Homo sapiens: one gene and its partner. The protein of the gene in region 1 interacts with the protein of each later gene in a pairwise test. Each region holds a gene or a part of one and is shown on either strand. Other genes may lie near its edges. The genes, in order: NKAP and FAM124A.

Region 1 (3,820 bases):
ACCATAGGAAAGATTAAAGAAACTGGGTATAAGAAGGCTGAAGAAAGACTTTATAATTTTATTTTAAGCACGTAAAAGACAAATGGTAAAGCAGCAACTGTTCTGTCTCCTCAGAGCAAAAACCTAACAAACTACAGTCTAAAGAGATGTTGTTCTGTTGCAGAGAATTCTGAAAATGAGTATTATTCAAATTCTACAATAGTTTAGAAAAGGAGTTTCCACATCATATAATCTTTTCCTCTGAAGATCATACTTGGAGTAATTTAAATATTATCTAGAAAATTATTTTGGCTGGGTGCAGTGGCTCACGCCTGTAATCCCAGCACTTTGGGAGGCCGAGGTGGGCGGATCATGAGGTCAGGAGTTCAAGACCAGCCTGACCAACATGGTGAAACCCCATCTCTACTAAAAATACAAAAATTAGCCAGGCATGGTGGCATGCACCTGTAATCCCAGCTACTCGGGAGGCTGAGGCAGGAGAATCACTTGAACCTGGGAGGCGGAGGTTATGGTGAGCCAAGATCGCACCACTGCACTCCAGCTTGAGTGACAGAGTAAGACTCTGTCTCAAAAAAAAAAAAAAAAAAAAGAAGAAAGAAAACTATTTTTAGGGTTCCTTCCAACTCTAATTCAATACATTCAGGTTCTTCAAGTGTTTTCTTTTTTTTTTCTTTTAAATAGTCTTGTTATTTGCCCAGGCTGGTCTTGAACTCCCGGGCTCAAGGAATCCACCTGCCTTGGCCTCCCAAAGTGCTGTGATTACAGGCGTGAGCCACCGCACCTGGCCTCTTCAAGCATTTTCTAAAGGTATCTGTAAGAACAAGTTTCAGATAATAATGCTTTATTATCCAATCACAAATTACAGGTTTACCTGTCAAGCACATTGTCTCAACTCAACCTAAAGTTGGCACAGAAACAGAGAGGGAAGAAGAAACTTATGAGTAGCATCAAAGAGAAAAGAAATAAGCAAAAAGAAAAAGCATTAAGTCTGCAGATAGTATTGGATATAGGAATATTAACAAAACCATACTGGTATATTCGTTTTAAAAAATCTCTTTGTAGGCTGGGCGCAGTGGCTCACGCCTGTAATCCCAGCACTTTGGGAGGCTGAGGCAAGCGGATCACGAGGTCAGGAGCTCGAGACCAGCCTGGCCAACATGGTGAAACCGCCGTCTCTACTAAAAATACAAAAATTAGCCGGGCATGGTGGCAGGCACCTGTAATCCCAGCTACTCGGGAGGCTGAGGCAGGAGAATCGCTTGAACCCAGGAGGCGGAGGTTGCAGTGAGCTGAGACCGCACCATTGCACTCCAGCCTGGGCGACAGAGCAAGACTCCATCTCAAAAAAAAAAATCTCTTTGTAATGTTAATATCTGGCATGCAATCTGCCACTGAGTTTAGTTGAGAAAAAATAATTCAAAATAATGTGTATTATTTAACAATGAACCCTTCTATTAATAGGAAAATTATATTCCAGGAATTATTTTAGATTATGCTAAAACCTACTAGCAACATGTTTTAATCTTTAGATATGTTCTATGTTTTTAAAACTTAAGGGGTAGAAGAACATAAATCACAAGAAAGAAAAATGTGAGATATATTTAAAGTTCTTCACTTAAACATTTTCACAATAGATTCAGGATTTAAACACATATTATAACATTTTAAAAATATATTTTTTAACCACTTACTCTGGTTCAGGATTCTTTGGAGAAAGTCCCCATACTTCAGGAGCTCCCAATTCTCCAATTCTCTCTCTCTCACTTAATCTCCTAGCAGATAAAGACATGTAAATTATAACTCAATGGCTGAGTTGTTTCCTAAATATATAATCAAATTCAATAGGAGTCTAGTTAAGCCTTTTTTCCCTTTATATTTTAAACATGGATAAAAACTTGGTTTAAATGTAAACTCATCACTTAAGGTCTGATGTTCTGATGATACTATCAAATGGTACAGACTATAGAAATGATGGCCTGGGAGACTGTCAAGTGCATCCATTCTGCTGAATGCATGACACAGCTCTTAACTGCTCATTTCATCATCTGTAATATGTGACAGAAACAGCTTCACATTTGTAAGTAACTTCATTTGTTTACAGATTTATGAAAGGTGAAGAGAAGTCTCTTTTGATATGGTCAAACCTTCAGTTTTCAGAAATCGAGGAATTAATGAAGAAAATAAAAATGATGCATTAGACGTAGAAAACAACTGAAGTTCTGAAAATGAAAGAAAAGTTTTTATTTTATTTTATTATTTATTTTTTTAGATGGAGTCTCGCTCTGTCGCCCAGGCTGGAGTGCAGTAGCACGATCTTGGCTCACTGCAACCTCCGCCTCCTGGGTTCAAGTAATTCTCCTGCCTCAGCCTCCTTAGTAGCCGGGATTACAGGCATGCGCCATCACGCCTGGCTAATTTTTGTATTCTTAGTAGAGATGGGGTTTCATCGTGTTGGCCAGGCTGGTCTCAAACTCCTGACCTCAGGAGATCCACCTCAGTTGCTGGGATTACAGGCGTGAGCCACTGCACCGGGCCCGAAATAAAAGTTTTTTATTTTTTTGTAGAGATGAGGTCTTGCCGCCAGGTGCGGTGGCACATGCCTGTAATCCCAGCACTTTGGGAGGCTGAGGCGGGCGGATTGCTTGAGATCAGGAGGTCAAGACCAGCCTGGCCAACATGGTGAAACCCCGTCTCTAGTAAAAATACAAAAATTAGCCAGGCGTGGTGGCGCATGCCTGTAATCCTGGCTACTAGGGAGGCTGAGGCAGGAGAATCGCTTAAACCCAGGAGGTGGAAGTTTCAGTGAGCCAAGATCGCACCACTGCACTCTAACCTGGGAGACAGAGCGAGACTCCGTCTCAAAAAAAAAAAAGAGGTCTTGCTTTGTTGTCCAGGCTGATCTTGAACTCCTGGCCTCGAGCAATCCTCTTGCCTCAGCCTCCCAAAGCGTTGGGATCACAGGCATGAGCCACTGCACCTAGTCAAAAAGTTTCATTTAACAAAAAATATACTTGGGGCTGGGCGTGGTGGCTCACGCCTGTAATCCCAACACTTTGGGAGGCCGAGGCAGGTGGATCACCTGAGGTCAGGAGTTCAAGATCAGCCTGGCCAACATGGTAAAACCCTGTCTCTACTAAAAAAAATACAAAAATTAGCTGGACACGGTGGCATGTGCCTGTAGTCCCAGCTATTCAGAAGGCTGAGGCTGGAGAATCTCTTGAACCCTGGAGGTGGAGGTTGCAGTGAGCCAAGGTCACGCCACTGCACATGACAGCCTGGGTGATAGAGTGAGACTCTTATCTCAAAATAAAAAACCAAAAAAAAAAAAAAAAAAACTATACTCAATGAGATACAAGGTTTGTTCCCTCTCTGTTTTCCTTTTAGTTCCTTTTTGGAAAAGGAGTGCATTTTGTATCTATTCTTTGAAGGACACTAAAATTTGTTTCTTCTTTTGTTTTATGCCTATGGTTTCTTCTGTTTTAATTTTTGTTATTCCTCATAAACTAAAAAACAAAACAAAACAAAGACTAAGGCTCATTCTCTCAAATTTTAGCTGCTTGTGACTCCATTTGTTTTTAAAAATCCTTCCAAAATAAATATAATTGCAATGAGTTTTTGTATAAATCGTTTTTGCCTCCTTAATCAGGGGAAAAGGTATTATAACTATGCAGAGTCAGACTGAGAGGGTTTCCCACCTGAAGTAACAGACAATTTAAAAGGTAACATATTTATAGCTGTACTTGGAATGTATGGATATCGGGGGAAGAACGCCTACCAGGCTGTAAATAGCAGGAAGTCCTGTTGTCACCTGGTTTCATCT
Region 2 (3,820 bases), on another chromosome or scaffold:
TGCCTATGGTTGTGCAGGTTGTGCACTGCACAGTTCTCAGGGAGCATATCATGCAAGAGTATACGTAAATGTACTCCCATAGTGCTTGGGCATACATAATTAGTGCCAGCTTCTTTGTGTCCCCAGTGCCTGGTACAAACTGATTGCTTAACAGATGTGCAAATGAATGCATGAATAAGAGAGAAGACAGCAAGCTGGACTGTTTTCAAGTGAGACACTTAATAGGGTTGGGAAGAAAATTCAGACGGGTTTTGATCTGATTAAATTAAAACCATGTTATTGCAGCTGTACATGGTGAAATGGACTTGTAAGCCCACTTGGAATGTCTACCTACCATAAAAAAATTTTCATCCTGTGACTTGATCAAGGTTATGATTCTGAAAAGCACACCACATTGATAGAACACAATTGACCACATGATCACTGTATGCCTGACACCCCTAGTGGACACTGTGAGGCATGTGTTTTGTAAAGGCAGATCTAGATTCTAGGTGAATCTAGCCCCCTAAATCACAATTGGCCTAAAGATGTCTCAATTCCCTTAAATGAGACCTAAAACTTCTATAAATGCAAATAGAACCATCTTTTAAAAGAGCAAGCCTTTTATCAGGTATAGTTATATGATTTAGAAATATGCCAAGTGTGGCCAAAAAACTGTCACCCCATGGGAAACTGTTGCCAAGTTAAACAGTCAACTTCATGCTTGGAATTCAACAGTTTCAGGTGTTCCGCCAGAGATCACAGGGAGGGTAACCGACCCATTCAAGTTGTGTGGGCTTCTGAGTGGATGTGGCCCAGCAAGGGACACAAAAGGTAGCCTTTCATGGGCAGTCATGGTCTCACCCTGCTTTCCTTCCACCCTAACCTCAGCCCCAGTAAGCTCCAACAGCAAGAACACTGTGCTTGGCTCTGGGGGTCATCCTTCCCTGTGTCTCCAGCAGCAACATGATCTTGGCCAGGACCCCACAATAGGGGACACTGTGGGCAGGACTCATCAACAGCCAGGGCATGACCTGTCTATAGAGTAAGCCCCAGGGGGCAAGCACAGGTCTCTCTTGTCCTCCATCATTCGCCTTGTGCCTCACTCCCTGTGAGGCAGGTAGGAAGGAGCCCATGAGTGTGTGTTAACAAAATAAACAAATGAAATAAGCAAACCAGAGGAGTGCGTTTGTGTAGGGAACATGTATGGGGCAAGGCCCTGCAGCTATTTCAGGAAATACTAAATGGTGTCCACAAGATGCTATGCCATCTTTTCTAATGGGCCTGTTGTTCCTTCCAAGTCACTAGACTTGACTTTCTATTTGTCTGATACGTAAATATAAAGTCAAATGTTCCCTATACCAACCAACCTGATGAAATACAGGACCAAGGTTCTCCTCACCCTGTCCAGCTTAGAAACTATTCACGTAGCAACAGCCCTTTCCTCTTTGGCTGCTAAGGTGCTGGCATAGTAGTTTTTATAGGTAAACTTGGGATCAGAAAATCACAGGTCATGGAGTCAGTTCAGTTAGAATTTGACTTCTCTTCCTGTCAAGCCTGTACACGTCATCACTGGACACTTTAATGAAATAATCATAATTGTATTCATTCATCCATTCGTTTTTTGCGTGCCCCCAGGTGAGCTTTCCGTTGAAGAGGCGCAGGACCCTTTCCTGGTCAGCATCCACATAATCGCAGACCCAGGGGAGTCCCAGCCCCTGCAGGAGGCCATCGACAACGTCCTGGCGTGGATCCACCCCGACCTCCCGCTGTTCCGGGTGTCCGAGAGGCGGGCGTCCCGGCGGCGGCGGAAGCCCCCCAAGGGCGCTCAGCCAGCGCTGGCTGTGGTGCTGTTCCTGCAGGAGGAGTACGGCGAAGAGCAGATCCTGCAGCTGCACCGCACACTGCAGCAGCCGCCCTGGCGCCACCACCACACCGAGCAGGTGCACGGCCGGTTCCTGCCCTACCTGCCCTGCAGCCAGGACTTCTTCACGCTGGCCCCTGGGACGCCGCTTTGGGCCATCCGGCCCGTGCACTACGGCAAGGAAATCGTGCGCTTCACCGTCTACTGTCGCTACGACAACTATGCTGACAGCCTCAGGTTCTACCAGCTGATTCTCCGGAGGAGCCCCAGCCAGAAGAAAGCGGACTTCTGCATCTTCCCTATTTTTTCCAACCTGGATGTGGACATCCAGTTCTCCCTGAAAAGACTGCCCTGTGACCAGTGCCCGGTGCCCACCGACTCCTCCGTGCTGGAGTTCCGAGTGAGGGACATAGGCGAGCTCGTGCCTCTCCTGCCCAACCCTTGCAGCCCCATCAGCGAGGGGCGCTGGCAGACGGAGGACCATGATGGGAACAAGATCCTCCTACAGGTACTGGGGGGACGCCTGTCTGTCTGTTTAGGGGACCTGAGAAACCAGTTAGCTTTGCCTCAAACACTATAGTACCAGTCACAGAGCAATGATCAAGGAAGGAGAGATCAGTGACCCTCTGCCCAGCTCCTAGTCGAAGTCAAAGTGGCCATACAGGATCCCAACAAAAGAGGGGGCAAGAAAGACTCTTCCCATTGGTTCTCTTCATTTCACTTTCAGCAAACATGTTCCCAATTCTTCCAGCTGCCCCTTCTGTCCTCCCCTATTGGGCATCCACTAAACACCCATGACTCCTGGGGATTTCAAATGAGCTTATAAGCTAGGGAATTTGCTATTAAAGATTCCTGAATCTATGCCCATGTACTTAGAGAGTTTTTACCACTGGATTCTTCCCTCCCACAAAGGAACTTCAGGAAAGCCCATCTATCTGGAAATTTTAAAATATATATTGATGTTCATAGAGGAGATAGCTGTTCTCTTCCTTCAGGTGCCTCCCCCACCTTCTACTCTTGCATCCTTCTACTGCTGGGCAGCAGGTTGTTGAAATCCTGTGATCACTTGGAAAAGGATGTCCCGTTAAACATTTTAAGGAGTAAGTGATGCCTTGGGAGCTTCTGGTTTCACTAAGCTTGGAAGGGGTGAAGGAATTCATTTTAAGTAGGCTGCCCTAGTCCTTCCATGGTAAACTCTTTAGCTTCATCATCAGCTCCCTTTCTCCTCTCATCCTTCCAGGGGTTGTCCCAGACTCATTAGAGATAATTAGTTATACTCAATTCAAAATTCAGCATGTATATTACAGAACATCCTACATCTGGTCCTACCTGAGAAATGCTTTCCAGACCCAGGCTTTCTTGATTTTACAAGTAAATTAGTTCCAGGAGTATAGGGCCTTGTTTTTCTGAAAAGCCTCTACCTCTGACGTCTCAATTTTCACACTTGGCTACCCGAAAAGAGAAAGTTGATAGTGAATTGGGGGACATTGCCTTAAGAGGCAAAGATTGTGGTTACTTGAATCACAGGTAAAGTTTCATCGTTTTTGTTGGTTTTGGCTTTAAGCACCAGAACTATAATCCACATATCATGAAATGAAGTCAGAATTTGGCACATGTCAGATAACTGGTTCAGACTACAGCCAGGCCTCATTTCTCGTCAGAAAGGTCACCTTGAGATACTTACTATTTATAGGAACTAGATAATTTTGAAACTTCCTTTTGAACTGTGCAGATAAGGAACTAAGTAATGTTTTATTATTCAATATGCTAGCATTTGCTCTATAATCCCTTTTGAAATGTGAGAAAAATTGTCTCTGTGTTTGAAGAATGCCACATCTTTATGCAAAATATAATACAGTTGCACCAAGTAAAAGTTAATGAAATGCAAAGGATATTGTTTATACTAAAAGACCAAAAAGAATGTGACTGTTTCTGAGGTGACTTCTTCCTTTTTGCAGTAATTAGAGCACTTTTTTC

The links.
Region 2: the proteins of NKAP (region 1) and FAM124A interact in a two-hybrid assay, tested with the Homo sapiens proteins (one large-scale study listed by BioGRID and IntAct).

The regions. Positions count from the first base shown.
Region 1 is NC_000023.11:119,937,039-119,940,858, forward strand, and holds part of NKAP (NF-kappa-B-activating protein), read right to left. Parts: intron 1,773-3,820; coding exon 1,692-1,772; intron 1-1,691. UniProt on the Homo sapiens protein: Acts as a transcriptional repressor. Plays a role as a transcriptional corepressor of the Notch-mediated signaling required for T-cell development. Also involved in the TNF and IL-1 induced NF-kappa-B activation.
Region 2 is NC_000013.11:51,249,851-51,253,670, forward strand, and holds part of FAM124A (protein FAM124A), read left to right. Parts: intron 1-1,617; coding exon 1,618-2,351; coding exon of another isoform or gene 2,352-2,423; exon of another isoform or gene 2,424-3,764; intron 3,765-3,820.